Regions from separate parts of the Homo sapiens genome. Here all the other regions are linked to region 2. The links come from fine-mapping of genetic effects on gene expression. A gene starts in region 2. Each other region holds a variant in brackets. All regions are shown on one strand. Distances are between the middles of the regions.

Region 1 (5,782 bases), 30 kb after region 2:
ACACAGAGGTTGGCTGGCATGCAGGGCACTGGGCATTCCCAGCAGCCGGGGTTGGCAGGGCAATTTTGTGCCTTGTGATTTCTGTACAGTTTTTGGAAATTTCTGAAACAATGGGGCCAAGTTTTTTTGTTTTTGTTTTTAAGGCATAACATTTCATCCCTAGCCTTGGGGCCAGTTGTTCAGAGCCCTGTGGCTACCCCTAGATGGGCTGCCTTTTTCCAGAAGCCCGAGGCCTCCCTCCCCACCCAGTCCCTGCTCCTGGTCCTGTTAAGCCTTGCTTTATTCTGGGTGTTTTTCTTGTTTTTCCCCTGTTTTCTTTCTTTCTTTCTTTTCTCTTTCTTTTTTCTTTCTTTTCTTTTCTTTTCTTTTTTTTTTTTTTTTTTTGCCTTTTCCTTTTTACCCATTTGATTGTCTTGATTTTTGATTTTCATTTCAGTTTTGTTTTGTTTTGTTTTTGCTGTTGACTTTTTGGTCCTTTTTCCTCCTTCCCTTTCCTGCCCTGTCTTCCAAATCCCTAAAAAGGTCTCTGGGGACGTAACAGAAAGTTGGGTGGGTCAAGTGACAGGAAGAGATGTCAGGGAGAGGCCAGAGCTGGCAGGGACACAGCTGGAAGGGCAGAGGAGCACCTGGGCAGAAAGGAGCTGGGACAGTGGAGCCCAGGGGAGAGGGTCGGGCAAGGGAGGGGTGGGAGAGGCTGCCCGCAGGAGCCATGGCTGCAGGAACTTAAAAGATTGATCAGCTCCCCTTACCTTGGCCCCAAATTTGGCCAAACGGGCTAGAGAGAGCCCTGCACAAAAGCACTGGATGGGAGTGTATTGGGGGGTTCCACCTCCCCTGCCCAATGTCCCTGTGGGTATTTTAACTCTTGGGCTCCCTGGAGGTGAATGAATGACCACAAAGTCCGTGGTGGTATATCTGTTCCCTCCAGAATCCATTCCTTCCCTTCTCTCCCTTTCTTCCTTGGCTCCCAGCATCCGGAGTAGGGAAGAGAAGGAAAGGAAAAGGAAGGGAAAGTGAGGATGAGGCTAGGATGGGGAGAAGGAGGATCTGCTCAATTCACTTAGTCCCCCTGGGTGACACACAGGACCGCTGTGGCGTCCAGGCGGCAGGATGCTGGGCACCTGCCCTGCCGCTCCTGACTTGCTGTGTGGCCTTGAGCAGATCCACTCCCTGCCCAGAGCTAAGTCTCCTCATTTGCAAATTAGGGCTAATAATGGGCACCTGGCAGGGCCTTTGTGCGCACTGGTAGGTATACAGGCAGACAAACAATGAAGACACACCCAGTTGCATTACAAAGGAGAGGTGTGTAAGGTCATAGTGGGAGGTTAGGGCAGGAAGGTTCAGACCAGGAAGAGGTCTATTCCAGCTTTGGAGCAGCCAGGAGGCCTTCCTAGAGGAGGGGGCACTTGGGCTGGGCTCTGGAGGGCCCTAGATTTTAGTCGGGAGGCCCCTGGGGCTTGGAGCAGGGCCACTGCATGGAGACTAGAAAATGAAGGGAGGCCAGAGGCCGGGCTGGGGCAGAGGAGGCTGCAGGTGGAGACTCTGGCTGGGGCTGTGCCACTCCCACTTTCCAGCATTTTGCCTCCTAACAGCTGCAGGAGGGTCAGGCCGAGGGGCTGAGGGTGGGGGCCATGCATTCCGGTGACTAACTCCACCCCCCTGTCCTGCTGCCCGCTGCCTCCCGCTGATACCCTGCCCCACCCCGCCCTTCCCCACCGGAGGCCTGGCCCTCTAATGTTGTCTGTCTTCTTCCCCCAGCAATTTCTGGCAACAAAGACGGGGGTGAGTATGGGGCCAATGTCAATGGGGCAGCCCTGGGGGTACCCCCTTCCTCTGCACAACAGAGGGGCCACGGGTGGCTCTGGCCTCCCGGTGGGTAGGCACCAGAACTGACAGACCCCCTCACCCCCACCGCCCCAGGGCACCCTTGAGGATCAAATCATCGAGGCCAACCCTGCCATGGAGGCCTTTGGCAACGCCAAGACCCTGAGGAATGATAACTCCTCCCGCTTTGTGAGTGGCTGAGGTGGGAGGGGTGGCGGGGATGCCGTAGGCCACCAGCGGCAGGTCGGGCACAGGTGGGGACAGTGCTGGCTGTGCCCCTTGGCTGAGGGCTGCCCCTCTGCCCACAGGGCAAGTTCATCCGCATTCACTTTGGTCCCTCTGGGAAGCTGGCATCCGCGGATATTGACAGCTGTGAGTCAACCCCCTGCGGGCGGTGCAGGGGAAGGAGGCCTGAGCC[C/T]GGTCACCCCAACTCGGCCTCTGTCATCACGACTTCTGGGCTCCTGCCTGCTCTGGGCACTTCTCTCTACCCCCTGGCTGCTGCCCAGCTCAGGCCACCTCACCTATCACCAGAACATCACCCCAGCCTCTGCCTGGTCTCCAGCTTCCTCTCCTCTACGCGGCCATAGTTTTGCTGGTCATATCCTGTTCCTGCTTGAAAGCTTTCTCTAGATCCTGTCACCTGAGGATGGAGACCCAAATCCTCATTTGGCCAGTCAGGCTCCTGTGACTGCACCCCTAGCGTGTCCCCAGTCTTCTCTCTGGCCACCAAGAGGGCAGGCCTGGCCCACGGCCCTCCTGCCCCAGCTGCACAGCTACACGTAGAGTGCCCCATCCTTCCAGGCACCCCGCTGGGAAGTGCCCCAGTACCACCAGCTGCATAGACCCCAGGCGCCTAGGCCACACTCAAGGGGGCCAGGGACACAGAGGGGCCCCCACGTTGGCCACTCCCCACATTGGGCTGCATGGCTAGGTCTTGACGGATGAGCGCAGGCAGGCAGTGACGGGGACAGGGATAGGCTGTAATTCACACCCTGACCCCTACACAGACACACACAGACACACACGGAGGCTCGGCCACACACGCACACACGCTGACACACCAACAGATAAAAACCTGCACACGCAGACACCACACTCACCCCACACACACGCAAGGACACACACTGACCCATCTGGCCAGAGACACAGACACACAGGTACAGACACACGGCTCGTGTGATGACGCAGGCACAGGGGAGATACCCTCCCCACACAAGCTGGCAGGTGCAGATGCAGCCCCCCTGCACACTCCCTGCCCACCTCTCTCCCTCCGCATCGCCCCCTTGGGATGTCCACTCTGGGGAGGTGTGGGAGATGGCAGGCCAGCGTCCCTTCTCCCCAGATCTCCTGGAGAAGTCGCGGGTGATCTTCCAGTTGCCTGGTGAGCGCAGCTACCATGTCTACTACCAGATCCTCTCAGGGAGGAAGCCAGAGCTGCAGGGTGAGGGGCAGTACGATGAAGGGGGTGGGAGTCAGAACCTGGAGGGGCTGCCTGGCGCTTCCTGGCCCCCATCAGGCCAGGCCCTGGTGGTCTTTCCCTCCCTGTCCTGGGGTCTGTGGCCTCTCTTCCTTCTTGGGACTTTTGGTTACTTTCCTGCTAGGGAACAGTCCTCTTAGCTCCAGCAACCTGCCAACGTGTTATCGCTGCCTCCAGGAGCCTAAGCCCTAAACCCCACTTGCTGTCCTGAGACTAGAGAGGTCCCACCCAGCACCAAGGCGGACTGATGACTGTCTAGGCCCAGCTCTCCTCTCTGGCAAGCCCGTTGAGGGCAGAGTCTGGTCTTCCCTGTGCGCCAGCATCTAGCATGGGATCTGGGCCAGAGGGGGCCATGAGCAACAGTCAAAAGATGAGTGAGACGTGAGGACTGTGGCTCATTCCTCAGAGAACCAGAAAAAGAAGCCAGGGTCAAAGTGAAGGCCAGGTCAGGGCCCTTCACTCTCAGTGCCCTCAGCCTTGGCAGGAGTGAGGATGAGAAACTTAGGCCCCAGACTGGGAGATGAGGTCCTCTGGGAGGGCCCTAGACTCCTGCTGGGCTTGCCCCCGCAGGACCCCCTATGCTGCAATTGTTGTGGGGAGAATAGCCGGTAAGCACTGCCTGACCCTCCCTTCTCTGCCCTGTGTCCCCAGACATGCTGCTTCTGTCTATGAACCCCTATGACTACCACTTCTGCAGCCAGGGCGTCATCACCGTGGACAACATGAATGATGGGGAGGAGCTCATCGCCACCGACGTATGAGCTCTGGTGGGAGGGGAGCTGTGTGGACGCCTGTGGTGGAATCGGGCAGCACTGCCGGTGCCCCCAGCTGCATGAATGGTCCCGGGGCAGTGCCTGGCTGGACCCTGGAGGAGCCCAGACCTCTCTGAACTCGCTTTCCCTGCTGCCCCCCAGCATGCCATGGACATCCTAGGCTTCAGCGTGGATGAGAAATGTGCCTGCTATAAGATCGTGGGCGCCCTCCTGCACTTTGGCAACATGAAGTTCAAGCAGAAGCAGCGGGAGGAGCAGGCGGAGGCCGATGGCACTGAGAGTGAGGGGCCCTAACCTGGCCTTCAACTTGACCCAGACCTCAGCATCCTGTCCATGATGGTTAACCCCAACTCTTGTCCACAACCTTTAACCTCAGTCTTACCTGGCCCTGCCTCCTCAGCTCCAAACCCTTACCCTCCTGAGGCTTTGTTTGCTAGCCCTGAACTTGACCCCTCTTAACTTCCCTCTCCTAGCCCCAGGCTGAGGCAGTAGAGCCCCTGAGTGCGCATGGTGGTGTCCTCCTCCCTTACCCCACTCGTGCCCTGCCAGGTGCTGACAAGGCTGCCTACCTGATGGGGGTCAGCAGTGGGGACCTCCTCAAAGGCCTTTTGCACCCCCGGGTGCGTGTAGGGAACGAGTACGTGACCAAGGGCCAGAGTGTGGAGCAGGTGAGCTGCCTGCAGGCCAAACCCATGGGGGACAGCCGGGCAGGGTCCCCTCCTTGCCAGGTCCCAGCCCAGCCTCCCTGCACCTCCAGGTGGTGTTTGCTGTGGGGGCTCTGGCCAAGGCCACCTATGACCGGCTGTTCAGGTGGCTGGTGTCTCGGATCAACCAGACCCTGGACACAAAGCTGCCCCGGCAGTTCTTCATCGGGGTTCTGGACATCGCTGGGTTTGAGATCTTTGAGGTGAGGACAGGCCCTCACCTTGGCCTCTGTTCTCTCCAAGGTAGAGGACATGGGCCTGTGGGGGGGCAGAAGCCCTGGCCTTCTGCCTGGAAGTTGGGGGTGAACTCATGCCCCTCCCCGGGCCTCCCTTTCCCCATCTGCGAGAGGTCTGCTGAGCCAGGCCCCTCCCTCTTGTAGTTCAACAGCTTCGAACAGCTGTGCATCAACTTCACCAATGAGAAATTGCAGCAGTTCTTCAACCAGCACATGTTTGTGCTGGAGCAGGAGGAGTACAAGCGGGAGGGCATCGACTGGGTCTTCATCGACTTCGGCCTTGACCTGCAGCCTTGCATCGACCTCATCGAGAAGGTGGGTGCCGCGGCAAGGTCACTTTGAGGAAGGGAGGGTGTGTGTGGTGAGCAAGCAGGGATGGATGACCATGGCTTGCATGGAAGCCTGCAAGTGTGCATGGAAGCGTGTGACTGTGCGTTGCAGTAAGCATGCATGTGAGTGTAGTTGTGACAGCGTTTATGTGCTTGTGTGTGAAAGGGCACGTGTGTGAGTGGGTGTGTTGGAGTTGACCATGAGTGAGCCTTGGTGAGTGTGTGAGCAGTGTGAATGCATGCATCCCAGTACTGTGGACAACAGCTCCTCCTGGGTGCTCAGAATTCTGCAGCTCACAAGGCCCTATTTGCAGCCACAATTTCACTGGATCCCTAGAACTGCCCTGGGTGCAGGGCAGGGTGTGTTTCCTTGTTTTTGTGATTGTGGAACATTATGTATATTTACCCATTGTACAAAGAATGGAAGAAAGAAAATTTG
Region 2 (5,782 bases):
CTGTCCCCCTGTCCCCATGACAGAGCCAGTGCCAGGCCAATTATGAAAGTCTGCCAGCCTCAGCACAATGCTTTGAAAGAATGCGCATGTGATCTCAAGAGGGTCCTGATAATATCCCTGTTGAGTGAGACATACATGAGGGCAATCATAGTAAAGAACAAGGTTCAAGTCAGACAGACAGACAGACCTGGGTTTGAGTCCATAATAATACGACTTCTCCCTTTCCCTTCTTTCCTTCCTTCCTTTTCCCTTTCCCTTTCCCTTCCCTCCTTCTTTCCTTCCTTCCTTCCTTCTTTTTCTTTCTTTCTCTCTCTCTCCCTCCCTCTTTCTTTCTTTTTTTTTTTTTTTGACGGAGTCTGGCTCTGTCGCCCAGGCTGGAGTGCAGCCGCACGATCTCGGCTCACTGCAAGCTCCGCCTCCTGGGTTCATGCCATTCTCCTGCCTCAGCCTCCCGAGTAGCTGGGACTACAGGCACCTGCCACCATGCCCGGCTAATTTTTTGTATTTTTAGTAGAGACGGGGTTTCACCGTGTTAGCCAGGATGGTCTCGATCTCGTGATCCCCCACTCTCGGCCTCCCAAAGTGCTGGGATTACAGGCGTGAGCCACCCCGCCCAGCCGACTTCCCTTTCAAGTAAGATTGCTGTGTGGATTAAAAGAGAAAAATCAGTGTGAAATTTATCAGCAGTGTTTGAAGCTCTATACATGAGACCATTTTTTGGCTGTACTCTCTTTATAGGTAGGAGGAGACTTGTCAGAGGTCACACAGAAGCCTAGTGGCAGAGCCAGGACAAGAACCCATTACCTTGACATTAGAGTAATGAAACCCTCCATGAGCCCCCATCGTTCCACAACTCTGAAATTCCAACATCTGTTTGCTGTTGGGCTTTTATTTAGTTGGCAAACACTGATTTGCATTTAATGCCACTCCCTTGACTAGGTACTGGGGATATGGAGGAGGATAAGACATAAAGATAATCACCATGGGCCAGGTGTGGTGGCTCACTCGTGTAATCCCAGCACTTTGTGAGGCCGAGGCAGGCGGATCACCCGAGGTCGGGAGTTCGAGACCAGCCTCACCAACATGGAGAAACCCCATCTCTACTAAAAATACAAAATTAGCCGGGCCTGGTGGCGCATGCCTGTAATCCGAGCTACTTGGGAGGCTGAGGCAGGAGAATAGCTTGAACCCAGGAGGTGGAGGTTGTAGTGAGCCGAGATCGTGCCATTGCACTCCAGCCTGGGCAACAAGAGCAAAGCTCTGTCAAAAAAAAAAAAAAAGAAAAAAAGAAAGAAAGAAAAGAAATCAGATGAAGGTGCTAAGTGGGCCCTTTGTTTTTCTCATTCTACAGCCTCAACCCTCCCTTGGCTTTATTTATGTTTTGCTGATGACATTCAAATCTACATCTTCACAGCAATACTTTCCTACCTTCAAACTAGAATATCCAATTTTTTCCTGCGAGTCTCCATACAACCAGAATAGAATTTGTTGTTGTCTCCCACAAATCTGCTTCTTCTCTGATGAACCCCACCCAGGTACCCAAGCCTTGAGTACTTGTTTCCTACATCTCACTCTCCCCAAATCCTATGGATTTTGCTGCCTAAGTATATAGTACTTTGAATTCCTTTATTTATCTCCATTTCCAGAGTTTGTAGCCTAGCCCCGGCCACTGTCATCTCTTCCCTGGGCGTGAAACAGATTCAGAGTCAGGTGTCTTCAGTGACCAGGATATGTTGGCCTCTGTCCCCCTTCCAGGACTTGGCACGTGCTGTCTTCTCTTTGGAACTCTCGCCACCACTCCTGATCTGGGCTCGCGATTTCGTTCCGGAAGCTGTCCCTGTTCTCCGCCCCGGGCTTCTACATTCTACAGCCCATCACTTTTCCCTGTACCGTAGGAACAGTGTTTGTCTTGATCACTTCTCTACCTAGTAATTAGCCGCGCTTAGTACTGTATTCATTCATCACATGAATGAATGAAGAATGAATGACAGACGGGTCAGATCACCGAAAGCCTCAAAACGCCCACAAGGAAATCGGTCGCACTTTATCGCCAGGACTTAGGCCAGTGCCTGGAAAGGCCCCGAGGCAACGACACGGTCGGCTGCCCAGGCTGGCCCCACTTCACGGGCCCGCTCGCTTCCACCCTGGACAAAGTTTGGCCCTAATCGCTCCCCGTTGTAGCTCTAACTGGCTCCAGTCTCACTGGCCTACATGCCCCGACACCGGCCCGATCTAAAGGCAGAAGATCCGGAAAGTCTGGGATCAGTGCGCGCCAGCCCAACCCCCTCACTAGACACTAGTTGCCCCGCTCCTACGAAGGGTTTCAGCCACAAGGTCTCCCGGCCTCCGGAATTCCAATCTCTTGCCAGACCCCTCCCTCACATCGTTCCTCCCGAGGAAACGTGACCCATGCCGGCCGCCGTGGCCGCCCCAACCTACTAGTTCGCCTTTCCTCCGCGAACGGTTCTCCCGGCCCTCGCGCCGCTACCCAGGCTCAGGGGGCGGGGCCTCGATGCGACCCAGTGCGCTTGCGCTGACCGCCCCGGCTAGGCTTAAAGAGCAGGCGGGGCAGAGACCCATACCTTTGGCGCTGAGTCGAGGCCAGGAAGGGGCGGTCGATGAGAGGGCGGCCTTAGCATTAGGAGTGCGTCGGCTGCACCCTGGCGGATGGACCTTGGGAAGGAGGGGAGGGGACCATCGGGGTCGGCGGGGAGCTACGGGTATGCATAGCTCATAGAGCGTCAGAGCTGACGACGACTAGTGGAAGATGGGGAAACTAATGCTCAGAGCGGGACAGTCACTACCTCAGGGGCACACAATTGATAAGGGTGGGGGTGGCCGTGGTAATGGAGGCCCCAAGGAGGGGCAGGGGCCCATAGTACGTCAGGGGCTGAGCCTGTATTAGAACCCAGGCTTGTTTCCCAGCCCAGCCAAGTCCCAGAAAAATCCCCCTGATTTTATCTATTTTTTTTTAACCTGGGATACCAGCAGGGAAAGCATTAGAGGCAAAAGGAAAGGATTTTCATTTTTCCAGGAATGCTGAAGTCAGGACTGTTTGAGGGGAGCCCTGTGTTTCTCAGACTCTCTTGTACCGTTTACATCAGGATCTGGGGCAGTTTTTAAAAATATGCGGATTCATGATTCCTACCCCCCACCTCATTGCTTGGCAGCCCCCAGGTGCCTTCCCTGTTTCTTCCTTCTGGGTTGTGATAGGCTTGTCTGCAGTCCGAAGCACCTGATACGAATTTTAGTTAAATGGAATGTATCAGTCCAGCTTCTAGGGAATTAACCATAAATAAGACACAGCCACTGCTTTCAGTCTGATAAGATAGGCAATAAACTGCCTTTCTGAAGGAATCAGGGATGGTTTTTGGGGTCTTGAAGGATGGATAGGAAGGTATAGGTAGTGAAGGAGGTAGGGGTAGAGGTGAGAGGCTGGGATGGGGACAGTGTTCCAAATTGCAGGAACAAAAGCAGCAAAGGCTGGCTGGGTGCAGTGGCTCAGACCTGTAATCCCAGCACTTTGAGAGGCCGAGGCAGGTGGATTACTTGAGCTCAGGAGTTGGAGACCAGGCTGGGCAACATGGCGAAACCCCGTCTCTACTAGAAATACAAGAATTAGCCGGGTGTGTTGGCCCGTGCCTGTAATCCCAGCTACTCGGGAGGCTGCGGCGTGAGAATTCTTGAGCCCCGGAGACGGAGGCTGCTGTGAGCTGAGATCACGCTGCAGCACTCCTGCCTGGGTGACAGCGTGAGACCCTGTCCTAAAAACAAAACAAACGAGCAGCGAAGGCATATAATTCTGAGGGTTGCTCGGCTTGTTTTACAGACACTGAGGAGTTTGGTGTGGATAATGAGGAAGGGCCTGAGGGTTGCAACAGGACTTAGGCGCTTAGGCTTGGAGAGGTAGCCTCAGACGCCAGTTCCACTGAGCAACAGGAGCTAAGGGCTTTAAGCAGGGGAAGGACATGGTTAGTTTTGTGTGTTAGGCACTGGTTACAGCGTGACAAATGGTTTGGAAGTGGGGAGATGGGCCAGAGAAAGCAGAGAGAGTTAAGATGTGAGATCATGAGGCTGTAGCCAGTGCAGCAGCTGTGGAGATGGAGCGAAGCGAACAGATCAAAGAAATTTAGGAGTGAGAACTCCTAGTGATCGTAAATCAGTGGCCCAACCCAGGGACCAAGATCCTTTTGACTCTTTTTTTTTTTTTTTTTTTTTGAGACGGAGTTTTCGTTGTTGTTGCCCAGGCTGGAGTGCAGTGGCACGATCTCAGCTCACTGCAACCTCCACTTCCCAGGTTCAAGCAATTCTCCTGCCTCAGCCTCCCAAGTAGCTGGGATTACAGGCGTCCACCACCACACCCGGCTAATTTTTGTATTTTTGGTAGAGACAGGGTTTCACCATGTTGGCCAGATTGGTCTGAAACTCTTGAGCTCAGGTGATCCACCCGCCCCAGCCTCCCAGAGTGCTAGGATTACAGGCGTTAGCCACTGCGCCCGGCCCCTTTTGACTCTTTAAATAAACCATGTACATTATCTGACTACAGGACAGGCTGAGTCCTCCAGTCTCCCGTGTGTGGTCACGGGATGGGGGGAGATGGTGGCAGATAGGTGTCTGGTTATTCCCAGAACAATGTTTCCTGATGTCCTTTCCTCGTTGGCTTTTGTACCTGAGGGGATAAGCAGCTGTTAACTAGAATAGGCCCCAGGTGGCAGGAAGAGGCTCCTGGGTCAACCAGGAACAAAAGAAGCTATTTCTAGTGCAGCATGAAATTAAAAATCAAAAGCATGACCCAGGGTTCTCTGTGCAGGTTCCCCTCTTCCAAGACGGGTGCCAAGTGATGAGTATCAGGTGTCTATGGTGAGATTTGGGGAGGATCCCAGACCTTAACAGCCCTTTGGTTGAAACCTCTCACAATGTGGCAGGTAAGATGTCTTTATTCCCATTTTGTAGATGTGGCAGCTGAGCCTCAGAAGTTACGTGACTTGTTCAAGGTGACCCAGTTTGTGGTAGGACTGGGAGTGAAGGACTCTTGACTAAGAATCTTTCCAGGGAGCGTTTGCCCTTTCTGCACTCTCTGCCTGGGTGCTTTCCTCCAAAATCCTGGCATGACTGGCTCCTTTGGTCATTCAGATGTTTCATCCCTGGAGGCTGCCCCACCCTATAAGTCTATCACGTTATCCTTTTCTTTTTTTTGAGATGGAGTCTCACTCTGTTGCCCAGGCTGGAGTGCAGTGGTGCGATCTTGGCTCACTGCAACCTCTGTCTCCTGGGTTCAAACAATTCTCCTGCCTCAGTCTCCTGAGTAGCTGGGATTACAGGCACGTGCCACCATGCCCGGCTAATTTTTGTATTTTTAGGAGAGACAGGGTTTCACCATGTTGATCAGGCTGGTCTCAAACTCCTGACCTTGTGATCCGTCCGCCTCTGCCTCTCAAAGTGCTGGGATTACAGGCGTGAGCCACCGTGCCCGGCCTTGTATTTTCTTCATAGCAGTTATTCATATCTGAAATTGTTGCTTTTATTTGTTTGCTGTTTCCCTCTGCTAGAATGTGAGCCCCATGAAAATGGGCCATGTCTGTCTTGTTCACCACTTTACCCCCAGGACCTGACTGGTGCCTGCCACGTGGCAGATGCTCAATAATATTTGCTAACTGATGGAAATAGTTTGGGGAGAGAGAAAGAGAAGGAAACCAACATTTAATGAAAGCTGAGGATGTTTCAAGTACTTCTCACAAATTACCTCATTTAATCCCTTCACAGCCTTTCAAGGTAGAAATCG
Region 3 (5,782 bases), 960 kb before region 2:
TGACCCAATGTCTTCCTCGTTTATATTTCTTCTAATGTGCTTCTGCTTGAGCAAGTGAGCCCTTAATGTCCATTTCAATTAACATCACTGCATCTGATCTCAGTGGTGTCACTCATGGATGCAATGAGGGGCGGAGAAAGGTCACTGGGAAGTGGGGAGAGGTGTCCCCTCTTGTTTGAAGGCTTGAAGTCACTGGTGAGGGAGGTATTGGGAGGGAAGGTGTGGAATGATTTGCTCCCTACTTAATAAAGACCATACTTTAAAGATGTCAGCCTGTCTTTTGTTTGATAAAACACTAATGTGAAGACCTAGTTGCAAGGCAGAAAGCAGGGACAAGGGCTCTGAGGGCTAAGCCAGTGAGGAACGGGAGACACACAAACTTGCATTGACTTATGAGAGCTTCCTCCATAACCTTGAGCTCCCTAGCCGTCAGTCACAGTGGGTGGGAACTGTATGCTCCAAATCTGCTATCCAGTATCCTGGGGATTCCCAGGGATGGCTCAAAGCTGGTGGTCTGACACCAACACTTCTGTGTGTGGCCTGATCTCAGCATGGAAATGGGATGGACCAGAGTTTGGGGTGGGTGTAGCAGAGCAAGCCTCAGGGAGAGGTAGACAGTCACAACCTGCCAACCCTTCCTTGCTCTTGTTTTCCATCCTTCCTTCCCTTCCTTCCTTCCTAACAAGGGAATTTGTTCCCTTTGTGCCCTTCCAGAGGGAATTTGTTCAGGAAAGAGAAAATATGGATTTATGTTCTCCAAGACACAATCCTCAGGGATGATTCTCTCTCCTTTGAGAAGTCAGAGCATTTGTTTTTTCATCATCTTTGCCATCAATAACAATCATTAGAAGAGCTTACTATTTCTTGAGCACCTTCTGTGTATCAGGGGACATTACATATATTATTTCTAGCCTTCACAGCAACCCTCAAGGTAAATGTAATTTATGCCCACTTTACAGAGGAGGAAATTGGGGCTTAGAGTGCTTGAGGAGCTTGTCCAGTAAGTGGATTGAACTGGGCCCGGTTCATTCGATTTCTGGCTCCAATGTCATCAATTACTTGCAATATATACTTGCAAGGGCCTGGCTCCTGGCTAAGACCTGCTAATGGATGCATCTGAAATAAGAAATGTCTTCTATTCAAGTTCCAGACGTCCACATCAACAAGCATCAAACACAGAGTTTAACCTGCATCGTACTGGCAGTCAAGATGCAAGGGCTGTAGTCCTGGTTCTGCAACTCTTTTGATGGGCAGCTTTCAGTGTATATGTGTGAACTCCCCTCTCCAGTAGAACTCCCCTCTCCAGTTGTCATTTCTCCATCTGTAAAATGGGCAAGTTTGACTAAATATCTCCAAGAGTCAGCTCAGTTCAATCCAATCTGACAGCACCCATGGGGCTTTCCTGTGTGACTGTGCCAGAAGGAAATAAAGATGGACAAGGCAGACCTCCATTCTCTAGGTGAGCTAAATGTGTGCTCTAATAGTTATACATAAAGAGCAACAAAGCTTGGAGAGCACGGCATCTCATTTAGACTTGGCCAGTGGCAATGTGTGTGGCACAGGAGATGAGGCAGGCTTCAGGGTGGAGGCGCCATTGGCAGTTGGGCTTGAAAAGGAAATAGAACATGTGGAGGTGGAGACAGGAGGAAGCTTTTCCCAGCCAACACCACATGGAGCAGAAGAACCACCTGGTCATTCTATAAAATTGTGAGAAGTAACAAATCATTGTTGTTTTAAGTCACTACATTTTCGGGATGATTTCTTACGTAGTAATAGATGACAGACCCCAAAGGTGGGTGTGTGATTATAGGCTTTATCCTATAAAGGTCAGAGATTGCTCATTTTTAGACCACAGCCTACAGTAATTGGCCTGCAGACATAATTCATTTGGCTTGCACAGGGTTTTTAAAAATAGTTGAGCCAACATTTAGAAATTGGGAGATTTTATATGAAAATCCAGATTTGGGGGCTCTCTTGAAGAATCCTACATCTCAGCACCTGCATTCTAGGAACAGTATGCAACACACATCCTCCAGTTCATGACAGTGCTCTCCACTCCCTATTGTCTCATGCCTAACCTTCTTTCTAGCCCCTGTAGACACCTGAGGGTTTGCTGTTGTTGTTATTTGTTTTGAGAAGGGTCTCACTCTGTTGCCTAGGCTGGATGCAGTGGTGTGAGCATGTCTCACTGTAGCCTTGGCCTCCTGGGCTCAAGTGATCCTCTGGCCTCAGCCTCCCAAGTAGCTGGAAGTACAGGCACATGCTACCATGCCAGCTAATTAAAATTTTTTTTTTTGTAGAGACAGGGTCTCACTATGTTGCCCAAGCTGGTCTCAAACTCCTGGGTTCAAGCAATCCTCCTGCCTCAGCCTCCCAGAATTCTGGGATTAAAGGAATGAGCCACTGTGCCCGGCATGACATTTGAGTTTTTGATCCATGCTGATGACATGGCAATGGGAGGCTATTGAAGGTTGTTTTTTGTTTTTCTGTTTTTGAGGCGGAGTCTCTCTCTGTGTCTCAGGCTGGAGTGCAGTGGCATGATCTCGGCTCACTGCAACCTCCACCTCCCAGGTTCAAGCGATTACCCCACCTCAGCCTCCTGAGTAGCTGGGATTACAGGTGCCTGCCACCACGCCCGGTTAATTTTTATATTTTTAGTAGAGATGGGGTTTCACCATGTTGCCCAGGCCGGTCTTGAACTCCTGACCTCAAGTAATCCCCCCCACCTCGGTCTCCCAAAGTACTGGGATTACAGGCGTGAGTTACCGCGCCCAGCCCATTGAAGGGTTTTGAGCAGAGAAGGAATGATGAGAGTTGGGCAGTAAGTAATGTATTGGTTGGGGGTAACTCTGGGGCAGGTGTAGTGAAAATCTATTATTCAATCTGCCCCAGAGCATGAACTCCATCTTTTGGGAAATGCATCTTTCTCTGACCATATGGTTCCGATGGGGCTGCCATCTCCCTGTACGTCCCACTTCCTTATTCACAGTATTGGTTAGAGAATGGCACCTGGCTTAAGTTGGGCCAGTCACAGCACCTGGTTTTCCACCCATAGATGATTGGTCTAGGGACGGGGACTTACCTATGTTGGACCAATCAAAGTTTTTCCCTAAAATTTTGTCCTTCAGACCAGAAGCAGAAATCCTCAGTCTCTCTCCGGTGGAACGGGTGAGAGTTGTGAGTGGTGAGCGCTGCTGCAGCCAGGTGCCTAGCCTTGAGGAGAAAAGCTCGCATACAGAGAGAAGAGATAAAGGACTGGGAGGAGAGTCCTGGCAACATTCAAGCCTCTGCGCTCACCACTTCAGTGCATTTTCTGAGCCTGGTTCTCCAGCCTTCCCATCAGTTCTGGGAGCTCCCCATTCCTTCCTGATAAATTCCTTTGCTGCATCTGTTAGTCTGAGTTTATTTATGTTTCGTAATTTGCAACCGAGAACACTGGTGA[T/C]AACCGGGGGCTTTGAGGCAATTCCAGGAGGGCTACTTCTCACCCCCGTCAGGGAGGAGCCAAGACAGGGTTTATCCTCAAATGCAGATCCCCTGAGGTCAGGAGTTAGAGCCCAGCTTGGCCAACATGATGAAACCCCGTATCCACTGAAAATACAAAAATTAGCCGGGCATGGTGGTACACGCCTGTAATCCCAGCTACTTGGGAGGCTGAGGTACAAGAATCGCTTTGAACCCAGGAGGCAGAGGTTGCAGAGAGCCGAGATCGTGCCACTGCACTCCAGCCTAGGCGACAGAGCTAGACTCCGCCTCAAAAAACACACAAACAATGAACAGACAAATAAATGACAGAACAAGAAGACAAACTAGAGAACATCTTGAGACAAGGTGTTCAGGGAAGAGTTCTTTTGAGAAGGTGATATTAAAGCGAGTTTGGGGAAGAACGTCCCAGGCCTTGCGCTCAGGGTCGTCAACTCTTTGATTTCTCTTCCTTTTGAAGCAGGGCAGGGAGGTCATCAAACAACAGAAGGACAATTATAACTGCTGGTATGGCAAAGCCAGGACTCTGAATTCAAACTCTGCTCCATTCTCAGGAATCCCGTCTGTTAAGCAGGTTCTGGGGAAGCGATGTGAGTCATGAAATCACAGGTCGGAGGAGGCATCGAGAATATGGTCAGTTCTCAACTTTCAGGGAAATCCATAGCTGAGGAATGAAGGACAACGGGCTTCTCGTGCTCTCACTAGGAAGACTGGTTCACCGGAGGCTGGAACACTGAAAGTGAGAAATCCCGACAGGAGAAATGTGTAGGAGAGAGGACTAGCACCTGGATCAAGTTATAAAACATCTCCTGCATCTTTTTCGGAGATCACCCTTAGCGCGGCCTCTCCGCCCAGTCCCAGATTAGGCAGCGAAGAGCGACCCTCACCTTGTCTAGGTGGCACGTTCCTTAAAAGCGAAAGGACCAGGAGTTTCTTCCTGCCTCGTCTCTTCCGGATCCCTCCTGCACCGCCCACAGCCTGCAGATTTGAGCGCCATCTCCAGGCCCCGCCCACCTCAAGCACCACCCCTCAGTCCTTCCTTGGGGCACGCCTCCTTCCGGCACCCGCCCAGAGTAGCCACCCCCGGGGCCCCTCCTCCCCTCCCTGCTTCCGGGCCCGCCTCCTTCAGGCCCGCTTCCATCTTCCTCCCACTCTAAGCTTCTCTTCAGCCCCGCCTCCCTCCACCCGTGGCTCCGCCCTCTGGGCGATTCTCCATTTAGCCCCGCCCACAGCATCTCCTTTCAAGCGCTGTCCTGGTTCCCGGCTCTCCATCTCCTGCACGGCCTTCCCCACTGGTCCGGCGACCCTCTTCCCAGGGCCTCATCACCATCTTAGCTCCGCCCCTACTTCGGCTCCAAACCTGTGCAAGCTGCCCTCTTCCCGCCCCAGCCCCGCCTCCCCAAGCCGCGTCTCAGTCCCTCCTCCCTTTCAGGCCCCACCCTGGCCCCGCCTTCCTCCCGTCCCCGCCGAAGCTCTGGACCTTTCCAAAGCCAGGCTGAGAGGGTGGGGAGAGCCCATGCGCCTGGGAAGCCGGGCTGTTTCTGGGCGGGGCTGCAGACTCCTCGTGCTCGTGTCACCGTGTCCTTCCCAGGAGACAGAGAAGGAGGAGAGCCCGGAACCAGGGCCGGAGCGGCGGGCGGAGCCGAGCTGCGGGGAGCCGCTCCGGGTGCCCCCACCCCCGCGCGCCTCAGTGGTGCCGGCCGAGGGCAGGGCTCGCGGTTGCGGGGCTCGCGCCGCTGTCAGTGCGGCGGGGCGCGCGAGCGGCGCCAGCTCGGGGCAGCGGAACCCAGAGAAGCTGAGGGGGCGGTAGCGGCGGCGACGGCGACGACGACGACTCCCGCGCGTGTGCCCAGCCTCTTCCCGCCGCAGCCGCCCTTTTCCTCCCTCCCTTACGTCCCCGAGTGCGGCAGTACCGCCTCCTTCCCAGCCGCGCGGCTTCCTCCAGACCTCTCGGCGCGGGTGAGTGGGGACTGCGGGCGTCTCCTTAGGGGTGCGGGGAGGGTGTGTGCTTTGTGCCTTTCCGTTCACTCACTTCTTCCGGCAGGCCGCTGCCTATTTTTAGAAACTTATTTCTGCCCTTCGGGGAGTCCCGGGAGCCCGAGTAACTCTAGGCCCCCTCCGCCGCTCCTTTCTCCCACTCGGACCCGCCGCCCCGGGTCCCCGGCCCCAGCCCTCCGCGCCCGGTCCTGCTCCCGGCGTTCCCTGTCTGCTCTCTCCGCGGGCCAAGTCTGGGCCAGTAGTTGGCTGGGTGGGCCCGCGCCCGCTCGGAAGTTGGAGTCTTTTGTGCTCGTGCCCCGCCCCG
Region 4 (5,782 bases), 470 kb before region 2:
ATGTAAGAGGTGGCCTCCCATGGCCTTGGGCAACACTGCCCTTGGGGCTTTGCAGGGTATAGCCCCCCACCGGCTGCTTTCATGGGCTGGCGTTGAGTGTCTATGGCTTTTCCAGTCTCATGCTGCAAGCTGTTGGTGGATCTACCATTCTGGGGTCTAGAGGACGGTTGCCCTCTTCTCACAGCTCCACTAGGCAGTGCCCCAGTAGGGACTCTGTATGGGCCTCCAACTTCACATTTCCCCTCCACACTGACCTAGCAGAGGTTCTCTGTGAGTGCCCTGCCCCTGCAAGCAGACTTTTGCCTGGGCATCTAGGCATTTCCATACGTCTTCTGAAATCTAGAGGGAGGTTCCCAAGCCTCAATTTTTGCCTTCTGTGCACCCTCAGGCTCAACAGCACGTGGAAGCTGCCAACTCCTGGGGCTTCCACCTTCTGAAGCAACAACCCGGGCTGTACCTTGGCCACTTTTAGTCATGCTGGAGCAGCTAGGAAACAGGGCACCAAGTCCCTAGAGTGCACACAGCGTGGGGACCCTGGGCCCGGCCCATGAAACCATTTTTAGCTCCTAGGCCTGCCTACAGGCTTGTGATAGGAGGGGCTTCCATGAAGACCTCTGACGTGCCCTGTAGACATTTTCCACATTGTCTTGGGGATTAACATTCGGGTCCTCATTACTTATGCAAATTTCTGTAGCCAGCTTGAATTTCTCCTCAGAAAATGAGATTTTCTTGTCTATTGCATTGTTGGGCTGCAAATTTTCCAAACTTTTATGCTCTGCTTCCCTTACAAAACTGAATGCCTTTAACAGCACGCAAGTCTCCTCTTGAATGCTTTGCTACGTAGAAATTTATTCCACCAGATACCCTAAATCATCTCTCTCAAGTACAATCGTCTCTCTCAAGTACAAATCCACCAGTCTCTAGCACAGGGGCAAAATGCTGCCAGTCTCTTTGCTAAAACATACAAAGAGTCACCTTTGCTGCATTTCCCAAAAAGTTTCTCATTTCCATCTGAGAACACCTCAGCCTGGACTTTATTGTCCATATTGCTGTCAGCATTTTGGTCAAAGCCATTCAACAAGTCTATAGGAAGTTCCAAACTTTCCCACATTTTCCTGTCTTCTTCTGAGCCCTCCAAACTGTTCCAACGTCTGCCTGTTACCCAGTTCTAAAGTTGCATCCACATTTTCAGTTATCTTCAGCAGCACCCCACTCCTGGTAACAATTTACTGTTTTCACACTGCTGCTAAGACATACTTGAGAGTGGACAATTTACAAAAGAAAGAGGTTTAATGGACTTACAGTTCCACATGGCTGGGGAGGCCTCACAATCATGGTGGAAGGCAAGGAGGAGCAAGGCATGTCTTACATGAATGGCAGCCGGCAAAGAGAGAGCTTGTGCTGGGAAACTCCCATTTTAAAACCATCAGATCTTGTGAGACTTATTCACTATAATGAGAACAACATGAGAAAGGCCCGCCCCCATGATTCAGTTATCTCCCACTGGTTCTCTCCCATAACACATAGGAATTATGGGAGCTACAAGATGTGATTTGGGTGGGGACACAGAGCCAAACTATATCATAAGGTTGGGTAAAATTTATAACTAAAATGATGTTTTATAGTATATCCTTTCTGATTATTTCCATTGGTTCATGCTACTAGTCTCAAGAGCTAATAGTTCATTCATACCTTCTCAATAGCAATTCTTTCCAGCCAGGGTTAAATTTTGCATATTTACTTCTTAAGTTCCAGGTTCTGCATTTCTTGCCTGGTTTTTCCCTCCATAATTGAAAGTATACTATTTAACACAGTGAGCTGTCATTATTTCTTGGACAACAATCTATCCTTTTAAAAGTTTATTTTGAAATCTGCTTTTAAAATGTAGTCAATTCGTTTTTGTCAATTCTCCAGTTTTTTTGTTATGATATGTCTAGATTTTCTTATGACATATATAGCATTCCAGAGAGGTAATGTTTCGAGATTCCAAGAGATGTACTACGTTTCTCAATAGTTTTGTTGCTGGTAAGATAACATTTTAAGATAATGGGCAGCTAAAAAGGTTTTTAGTATCTACTTCAATAATGGCTTGCTTAAAATTTCAGAGTTTGGGGGGTTTTTAGTATTATTTTAAGAAGTATAATTTCCTTAGAATAAAATGCACTGATCTTAAGTGTAGAAGTTGAAATTTGACAAATATATATATCAGCCCAAATGTGAGCATTTTATGGAGAGAAGTTGTGCTAGATCACTCATTTAATTACCAATTCTGTAAACACTGTTCCATATAGCATCATGTCCATGTAAATATGACCCAAATTGTGGAACTTTTTTTTCTATTCTGGACCCCATAAGGGGCCAATGCACACCTCCCTTCTCCCAGCCCCAGAGGTAGGTAACCATTTCTGTTTAGTTCTATTTCTATAACTGTTTCTGATCTTAAACTTCCTAAAATGAAATCATAGAGTATGTACTCTTATATCTAGCTTTTAGTGTCTGATTTTTTCTTTTATTTGGTGTTTGTGAGATTCAGCCATATTGTTTATATCAGTATTTTATTCCTTTTTATTGCTGAGAAATATTCCATGCTGTGTATATCTCAAAATTTGTTTATCCATTCTCTTGGTGATAAATGTTTTGGTTGTTTCTCAGTCTGGGGCTTTTATGAGTAAAGCTGCTATAAACATTCTTGTGATATCTTTTTGTGGACATATTTTTCTTGAGTAAATACCTAGGAGTGAAATCGCTGGGAAGGTGTTTGACTTTATTAGAAACTGCCAGTTTCCCAAAGTGTTTTTGCCATTTTGCAGTCCTACTAGTAGTATTTGAGAGTTGCTTCACGTTCTTGCCAATTCAGCATTGTCAGTAATATCTCGTGGTTTTAATTTCCATTTCTTCCTTGACTAATGGTGTCAAGTACGTTTTTCTATGCATATTGATCATTTGTAGCTCTTCTTTTGTGATGTGTGTATCCAAATCTTTTATCCATTCTAAAATTGGGTTGTCTTTTTATTTGTGATTGTTGGAGTTCTTAAATATTTCAGATCATTGATTTTAGAAACTCTTCTCTTTCCCTTCTTCCCTCCCTCTTCTTACCTTTTCTTACGATACGTCTAGATTTC[GTTC/G]TTCTTTGACGGAGTCTTGCTCTGTTGCCGAGGCTGAAATACAGTGGCACGATCAGAGCTCACTGCAGTCTTAAACTCCTGGGATCAAAGGATCCCCCTGCCTCATCCTTCTGAGTAGCTGGGACTGTAGGCACAAGCCACTGTGCCCAGCAAATTTTTTGGTTGTTTTTATTTTTGTAGAGATGTGGTCTTGCTATTTTGCACAGGCTGGTCTCAGACTCCTTGCCTTAAGCTATCCTCCCACATTCTGTTTTCTAATATAAGGATTTAAAGCTGCATATTTCCAACTAAGTATTTCTTTAGCTATATCCCACAATTTTTTGTTGTTTTTTTTGAGATAGAGTCTCACTCTGAGGTTGCCCAGGTTGGAGCGTAGTGGTAGAGTCATGGTTCACTGTAGCCTCAACCTCCTGAGCTCCAGATAGCCTCCCACCTCAGCCTTCCAGGTAGCTGGAACCACAGGCATGTACTACCATGCCTGGCTTACTTATTTATTTATTTATTGTAGGAGATGGGTCTTACTATGTTACCCAGGCTGGTCTCCAAACTCCTGGATCCAAACGATACTCCCACTTTGGTCTCCCAAAGTGCTGGAATTATAGGCATGAGCCGCCGCATCCAGTCCACACCTTTTTTTTTTTTTCCCCCGAGACAGAGTCTTGCTCTGTCGCCCAGGCTGGAGTGCAGCGGTACAATCTTGGCTCACTGCAACTTCCATCTCCTGGGTTCAAGTGATTCTTCTGCCTCAGCCTCCCGAGCAGCTGGGATTATAGGCACCCGCCACCACGCCTGGCTAATTTTTGTATTTTTAGTAGAGACGGGGTTTTGCCATGTTGGCCGGGCTTGTCTTGAACTCTTGACCTCAGGTGATCCGCCTGCCTCAGCGTCCCAAAGTGCCTGGATTACAGGCATGAGCCACCACGCCCAGCCACAAATTTTGGAATGTTGTGTTTTTCACTATTTTATTTATTTTATTTATTTATTTATTTATTATGTTTTATTTTTATTATTAATATTTTTGAGACAGGGTCTCACTTTGTCACCCAGGCTGGAGTGCAGTGGTGAAATCTTGCCTCACGGCAGCGTCCAATTCCAGAAGTTCAAGCGATCCTCTAGCCTCAGCCACCAAGCAGCTGGGACTACAGGCATGTGCCACCACACCCACATGACGAGATGGGGTTTCACCGTGTTGCCCAGGCTGGTCTTGAACTCCTGTGCTCAAGGGATCCACCCACCTCAGCCTCCCAAAGTGCTGGGATTACAGATGTCAGCCACCACATCCAGCCACTCTCATTGTATTTAAAAGTATTTGTTAGGTTTTTTTTTTTTTTTTTTTGAGACGTAGTCTCTCTGTCACCCAGGCTGGAGTGCAGTGGTGCCATCTTGGCTCACTCTAAGCTCCGCTCCCTGGGTTCACGTCATTCTCCTGCCTCAGCCTCCGGAGTAGCTGGGACTACAGGCGCCTGCCACCACACCTGGCTAATTTTTTTGTATTTTTAGTAGAGACAGGGTTTCACCGTGTTAGCCAGGAAAGTCTCAATCTCCTGACCTCGTGATCCCCTCACCTCAGCCTCCCGAAGTGCTGGGATTACAGGCATGAGCCGCCGTGCCCAGCCAGGTCTTATTTTTATCCTGATAATCTCTACTTTATAATTGGAGTGTTCAGTACATTTATGTTTAATTTTATTACTGATTTGGTTGGACTTTTGTCTAACCATTGCTATTTGTTTTGCTATTTGTCTCGCCTTGCTATTTGTTTCTTATTTTTCCCAACTTTCTTTGTTCTTTCTTGCCTTCTTTGAATAAAGCAATTTTTACTTTCTTTTTTAGCTCTTCTGTTGGTTTTTTAGCTATACCTCTTTGTTTAACTTTAGTGGCAACTCTAATGATTATGATAATATGCATCTTTAACATCCCTGTTGACCCAAACACTACTTCTTGTACAATATAAGAAGCTCATAGGCCAGGTGCGGTGGCTCACACCTGTAATTCCAGCACTTTGGGAGGCTGAGGTGGGCAGATTGCCTGAGGTCAGGAGTTCGAGACCAGCCTGGCCAACATGATGAAACCCCGTCTCTACTAAAAATACAAAAATCAACTAGGCATGGTGGCAGGCACCTGTAATCCCAGCTACTTGGGAGGCTGAGGCATGAGAATCGCTTGAACCCAGGTGGCGGAGGTTGCAGTAAGTCGAGATCACGCCATTGCGCTTCAGCCTAGGGGACAAGAGCGAGACTTCGTCTCAAAAAAAAAGAAAAGAAGCTCATAATAATATAATTCCATTTACCTCACTCCAGCTCTTTGTGGTGTTGTTGTCATATATTATTTCTACGTGTCACAAATATAATACTTTGTTACTGTTATTCTTGCTTTAATTTTTAACTATTTTCAAAAATAATCTTATATTTACTCACATTACTATTTCTGGTTCTCCTTATTTCTTTCCTCAGATTCATTTTTTTTTTTAAATCTAAGATAATTTCCCTTTGGCTTTAAAAAAAAAAACCTTTCTTTACCATTTCACTTAGTGTGCATCTCTTGGTGATGCATTTTCTCAGCTTTTATATGAAAACATCTTTATTTCACCTTCATTTTTTGAAGGATATTGTCACTAGATTTAGAATTCTAGGTTTATAAAATAATGATGCGGTCATGTT
Region 5 (5,782 bases), 140 kb after region 2:
GCCTGAGAAAATGACATTTATGAAATGCTCGGGAACCATTTGGGGGCTGCAATGATGACCCCCTCCCCCACGCCCAATACACGGGATAAACTCGAGGCCCACAGAGGCTAAAACAAACACGACAGGGTCCCCCAGACGTGTAGACGTGGCGCAAAGAAGGGAGGATCCAGAAACTGGGCCCAGGGTTCGTACACGCCATCAGTGTCCACAGCAGCCCAGCCCCGCTCGGCCCCTGACAAGGGACATCAAGCCAGCTGCTTCCCACGGCCCCGCTGCAGCTGAGAGCGTCCGGGCAGCTCACAGGGAGGCCTTCCGGCCAGCCAAAAGGGCTTTGGCCCGTCCAGCGGCGGCCTGGAAAGGCCTCTTCCCCGGCCCCCCGCCAGCTCCCGCCTGGTCCGCCCCGCCCCGCCCCTCCTGGTCCAGCCTCGTACCTGCACCGCCCGGACCAGGCCCCGGCCGGTCAGCTGGCCCTGCCGCAGCTGCAGCAGAATGTTACCAGGCCGCGGCCGGCCGCCCCATCCGCCCCAAGCCGCCACTGTGGCTGCCGACCGTCTCCCTCGGCCGGCTCCAGACCCAGCCGCTACCGGCGCCGCCGCCATGTCTCCTCGTCGGACAAACAGGAAGCAAGCGGCCTCGGGGCCGCGGAGATTTCTACGGGGCGGCGGAGGGGTCGCCGCAGCGCCCCCAGTGGGCCGTCGGCGGAGGCGCAAGCCGCGTGGCAGGGACCGTGTGCGGCGTGGAGGCTACTGGGAATTGTAGTCCTGCGCGGCAGCGGGGTAGGTGGGAAAAGAGATGTGGCCTTTCCTGCACTGCCGGTTTCTCTGGCCCCCGGGCCCAGCATTTCGGCGAAATCTCCCAAGGTCCACATTCTCCCATTTCTCTCGCCGATTTGGGCAGGATGCAGGCAGCTGGCCAAGAAATGATCCTGGGCTTCAGGTCAGGAGTCAGGCCCTCGAGTCCGCTTCCTGCCTGCTTCTCTCTACACGTGACTCACCGCGGACATCGACCAAGTCATCGCGCTCTGCCACTGCGCCTGTGTCCTCGTCAGGTCACTCCATCTATAGATTCTGGGAGCCTGATCAATCGTAGTTCCTGGGGCTTTCTCTGCGCCCGACACCAAACCATGTCTAGGGGAAAGGGAGGGTGTCTGGGATACAGTGGTGAGCAGAACGGCCTGGGATCCTTTATCACGAAATGCAGGTTACAGGGGAAGACAGCAGATCCATACACAAAGAAACGCAGTCTCAAACTGGATAAGTTGTGTAACTGGGTAGGTTGTTGTGAAATTAAATAATGGAAGGGAAAGGGATTAGTAAATTGTGACATCATATTCTCTGTCAGATGAAAACCCTGTCCTAATTTCTATCCACCAGATAGCATGTTGTCTCTAATACTCATTTTTTCAGCTAACTTCTGTGGCAGGATGGCACTGACTCCCCCCACCCAACACACACACACTTTTTCCCTTCCTAGCAGGGGGCCTGTAATAAAAATGAAAGAGGAGAGCTAAGTGTGATGTAACAGGGAATGGTGAAGATTGTGACTCATAACTAAGATGACTGTAACTTACTGCTCAAACCAGAACACTTTAAAGAATGAAAAGACACAATAAATAATTACACCGGGACGGTAGGCATAAAAGTGACTCTCCCAGGTGAACTGGCACTATGGTTACCATCCTCACACCCCATCTAAAAGGAGTAGACTCACCATCCATCTTCATAGAACTAGAAAAAAGAATCCTAAAAATCATATGGAACCAAAAAAGAGCCTGCATGTCCAAAGCAAGACTAAGCAAAAAGAATAAATCTGGAGGCATCACATTACCTGACTTCAATCTATACAATAAGGCCATAGTCACCCAAACAGCATGGTACTGGTATAAAAATAGGCACATAGACCAATGGAACAGAATAGAGAACACAGTATAAAACCAAATACTTATAGCCAACTGATCTTCGATAAAGCAAACAAAAACATAAAGTGGGGAAAGGACACCCTATTCAACAGCTGGTGATAACTGGCAAGCCACATGCAGAAGAATGAAACTGGATCCTCATCTCTCACATTATACAAAAATAAACTCAGCCGGGTGCAGTGGCTCACACCTGTAATCCCAGTGGCTCACACCTGTAATCCCAGCACTTTGGGAGGCCGAGGTAGTCAGATCATGAGGTCAGGAGTTCGAGACCAGCCTGGCCAACATGGTGAAACCCCATCTCTACTAAAAATGCAAAAATTAGCTGGGCGTGGTGGCATGCACCTGTAGTCCCAGCTACTTGGGAGGCTGAGGCAGGAGAATCACTTGAACCCTGGAGACAGAGGTCACAGTGAGCCGAGATCACGCCACTGCACTCCAGTTTGATGACAGGATGAGACTCCATCTCAGAAAAAAAAAAAAAAATAGCCAAAGAAGTTACAGTCAGGAGATATTTTGTTCCCTATAGAAACTGAATATAACATCTTAAAATTTGTCCCTGAGTGTTGTTTCTTAGAAACTCGAACCCCCACCAAATGGATCTGCTGATAGGCAAACTCAGATAAGGGAGAGCTGAGAACTAAACTTTGACTTCTATTTTTTGTTATAAATTTCTTCCTAGGGGGCCTGGAGGAGGACACGACCATAAGTCAGAGCTAACATTCTTTTCTGCAGATCCCAAATTTTTAGACAAAGCTTTACCTCCTTAACCAATTACAAGTCAGAAAATCTTTGAATCCACTTGTGGGCCCCTGGTTGGAGATGTCCTGTCTTTTTAGGTGGAACCAATATACAGCCCCTATGTATTGATTTATGACTTCGCCTGTGGCCTCTGCCCTCCTGCCATTAAAAACCTGTAAGCCGGCTGGGCGCGGTGGCTCACACCTATAATCCCAGCACTTTGGGTGGCCGAGGCAGGTGGATCACCTGAGGTCAGGAGTT[C/T]GAGACCAGCCTGACCAAAACGGCAAAACCCCGTCTCTACTAAAGATACAAAAATTAGCCAGGCATGGTGGCACGTGCCTGTAATCCCAGCTACTCGGGAAGCTGAGGCAGGAGAATCGCTTGAACCCAGGAGGCAGAGGTTGCAGTGAGCTGAGATTGCACCACTGCACTCCAGCCTGGGCGACAGAGCAAGACTCTGTCTCAAAAAAATAAAATAAAACCCCTGTAAGCCATAAGGGAGTTCAGGTCTTAAGCATAAGCTGTTTGATTCTCCTCGCTTGGCACCCTGCAGCAAGTGCAATAATAAATGCCTCACTTTCTCTTGCTGTAATCCCAATGTCAGTGGCTTTGCTGCACCAGGTAAGCAGCCCTCACTTTGGTTCAATAACAATACTTTTCATAACTTTTTGCACCAGCTATGTATCATTTCTAGATTCAAGAAAAAAAAGTCTTCTAATATGTGAAATTAACTTTAAAAAGACATAAAAAGAAAAGGCATTTCCAGGGATACAAACAGGGCATTGGTGAGCTGTCCGGGCAGCAGCCAGCCTTACCAGGGAATCCACAGCCCAGGGATTCCACCCAGAGCTCTTCCTGAGGCATATGGTGATGGATATTCTCACCCTTGTCGCGGTGAGGAGACAGGATCCTGACTAATTTCACAGTTCACATGGCCCTCCAGGTTTCCCTTGGCACTCATCATGCTAGGGACAAATCTTCCCACCTCAGCTTTGACCCAACTGCAAATGTCACTTTCCATTCCTCAGTTCCTATCTTTGTCAGTCTAGCCTGGCCCAGGCATTCACCAAAGCTGGGTATTCACTGGGTCAAAAATGACAACCTCAAATTCAGTCCTTACAGATACCATGTGACCATGAAGTAAGGGGACATGTTTCCAGAAACCTCTGTGGAAAGACACTCTTTTCCACTTCACCTCTGCTCTGCCAGCCTTTTCCGTAGAAACTAGCTGAGGCTAGGCGCGGTGGCTCAGGCCTGTAATCCCAGCACTTTTGGAGGCCGAGGCGGGCAGATCACGAGGTCAGGAGTTCGAGACCAGCCTGGTCAATATGGTGAAACCCCGTCTCTACCAAAAACACAAAAATTAGCTGGGCGGGGTGAAGCGCGCCTGTAGTCCCAGCTGCCCTGGAGGCTGAGGCAGGAGAATTGCTTGAACCCGGGAGGCGGAGTTTGCAGTGAGCCGAGATCGCGCCACTGCACTCCAGCCTGGGCCACAGAGCAAGACTCTGTCTCAAAAAAAAAAAAAAAAAGCTGAGTGTCTCTCACCACCAGAGGGCGAAGTACCTCTCCCACCAGAGGTCTGTTGATGTCAATTTTAATCAGCACTAGAAAAAAAATGAAGCTCCCAAACTGGCTAATTTTTTTTCCACCGTAATCCCAAATGGCTTAACCAAACATGATGATGCTATTCAGAGAACATTAACTCTTGTAAATAAATCGCCAAACTCATCTCAATTGGGCAGACAGATTTTCTGGGACTTTTTTTTTTTTTTTTTTTTTTGAAGTCTTGCTCTGTGGCCCAGCCTGGAGTACAGTGGTGTGATTATAGCTCACTGCAGCCGCCAAGCTCCTGGGCTCAAGCAATCCTCCCGCTTCAGCCTCCCAAAGTGCTGGGATTACAGGCATGAGTCATGGCACCCTGCCAAGAAGTCACTTTAATCAAAGCAACTGGCACTGTTATATCAGGCCATGGTAACAGCTGTCCCATGCAACTATGCATTGTCCTGTGGTGTCATTTTTTACAGTGATTTTTTTTTACATTACATTTCTAATGTACAACCTCTCCATGATTTGTCTTTTAAATGTTTGTTAAGTACTATCTTATGTGCCAGGCACTGTTATAGGTGCTGTGGATATTGTGCTAAATAAAATAAACAAAATTTCCTGCCCTCATGGGGCTTATACTTCTGGGTAAGATCTACCCTTTATTGAGCACTTACCATTGGCCAAGCACTTTCTTTGCACTATCTTATTATTCTCGCAGCATTTTTGGGGAAGTTTTTCAAATCTACAGAAAGTTAAAAGATACACCATTAACACTCATATACCCTTTGCTTAGACTTGTCAGCTACTAAAACTATATTTTATCTTTCTCTCTGTGTATATATACACATATATGTACATATATGTGTATATATACATATACATATATACACATATGTACATATATGTGTATATATACATATACATATATACACACGTGTATATATACATATACATATATACACACGTGTGTATATACATATACATATATACACACGTGTGTATATACATATACATATGTACACACGTGTGTATATATACATATGTACACACGTGTGTATATATACATATGTACACACGTGTGTATATATACATATGTACACACGTGTGTATATATACATATGTACACACGTGTGTATATATACATATGTACACACGTGTGTATATATACATATGTACACACGTGTGTATATATACATATACACACGTGTGTATATATACATATACACACGTGTGTATATATACATATACACACGTGTGTATATATACATATACACACGTGTGTATATATACATATATACACGTGTGCCTATATACATATATACATGTGTGCCTATATACATATATACATATATGTGTATATATACATATATACATATGTGTATATATACATACACATATATACATATACGTACATATGTGTATATATACATATACATACATATATATGTGTATATATACATATATACACATACATATATGTATATATACATATATGTATATATACAGCTCTTTCCATATATGTATCTCTCTCTATACTTCATTTATACGTAGAGAGGGTTTGTGTTAGTTTTGCTAAAC

Direction of the effects. Positions count from the first base shown, and alleles are read on the strand shown. Sizes are in standard deviations (SD) of each study's normalised expression. Not every link is listed here.
In carriers of allele C in region 1, the expression in esophagus mucosa of the gene that starts at base 2,581 in region 2 tends to be lower than with T alone (moderate effect, 0.42 SD a copy in GTEx).
As copies of T replace C in region 3, the expression in stomach of the gene that starts at base 2,581 in region 2 goes down (moderate effect, 0.50 SD a copy in GTEx).

What was found. PIP is the estimated chance that this variant, and not a neighbour inherited with it, causes the effect.
Region 1: its variant is fine-mapped to the expression of MYH7B in esophagus mucosa (GTEx, PIP 0.96).
Region 3: its variant is fine-mapped to the expression of MYH7B in stomach (GTEx, PIP 0.99).
Region 4: its variant is fine-mapped to the expression of MYH7B in thyroid (GTEx, PIP 0.98).
Region 5: its variant is fine-mapped to the expression of MYH7B in tibial artery (GTEx, PIP 0.97).

Annotation. Positions count from the first base shown.
Region 1 is chr20:34,982,934-34,988,715 of GRCh38, forward strand. It overlaps MYH7B (myosin heavy chain 7B), which reads left to right. Exons shown (of 45, transcript NM_020884.7): 11 at 1,759-1,782; 12 at 1,921-2,013; 13 at 2,133-2,196; 14 at 3,167-3,265; 15 at 3,953-4,056; 16 at 4,216-4,354; 17 at 4,624-4,742; 18 at 4,832-4,981; 19 at 5,159-5,329. Among named protein-coding and RNA genes, the nearest start is that of MIR499A, 4.6 kb to the right of the region's middle. RefSeq lists enhancers at 1,125-1,676, 2,779-3,330, 3,331-3,882. The variant C/T (reference allele first, on the strand shown) is at 2,243.
Region 2 is chr20:34,953,288-34,959,069 of GRCh38, forward strand. MYH7B (myosin heavy chain 7B) reads left to right here and starts at 2,581. Exons shown (of 45, transcript NM_020884.7): 1 at 2,581-2,720; 2 at 4,811-4,925. GSS (glutathione synthetase) reads right to left here and starts at 2,519. Exons shown (of 13, transcript NM_000178.4): 1 at 2,440-2,519. RefSeq lists enhancers at 2,327-2,426, 2,667-2,846.
Region 3 is chr20:33,988,693-33,994,474 of GRCh38, forward strand. RALY (RALY heterogeneous nuclear ribonucleoprotein) reads left to right here and starts at 5,219. Exons shown (of 10, transcript NM_016732.3): 1 at 5,219-5,439. It overlaps RALY-AS1 (RALY antisense RNA 1), which reads right to left and starts at 5,675. Exons shown (of 2, transcript NR_109886.1): 1 at 5,513-5,675; 2 at 3,796-4,213. RefSeq lists enhancers at 4,120-4,199, 4,136-4,662 and silencers at 4,440-4,689, 4,860-4,969, 5,150-5,279, 5,340-5,389, 5,610-5,782. The variant T/C (reference allele first, on the strand shown) is at 3,443.
Region 4 is chr20:34,482,571-34,488,352 of GRCh38, forward strand. The region is part of intron 20 of ITCH (itchy E3 ubiquitin protein ligase); the gene reads left to right. Among named protein-coding and RNA genes, the nearest start is that of MIR644A, 19 kb to the left of the region's middle. The variant GTTC/G (reference allele first, on the strand shown) is at 3,123.
Region 5 is chr20:35,092,183-35,097,964 of GRCh38, forward strand. TRPC4AP (transient receptor potential cation channel subfamily C member 4 associated protein) reads right to left here and starts at 625. Exons shown (of 19, transcript NM_015638.3): 1 at 432-625. The coding sequence starts at 599. RefSeq lists silencers at 397-526, 4,160-4,289. The variant C/T (reference allele first, on the strand shown) is at 2,921.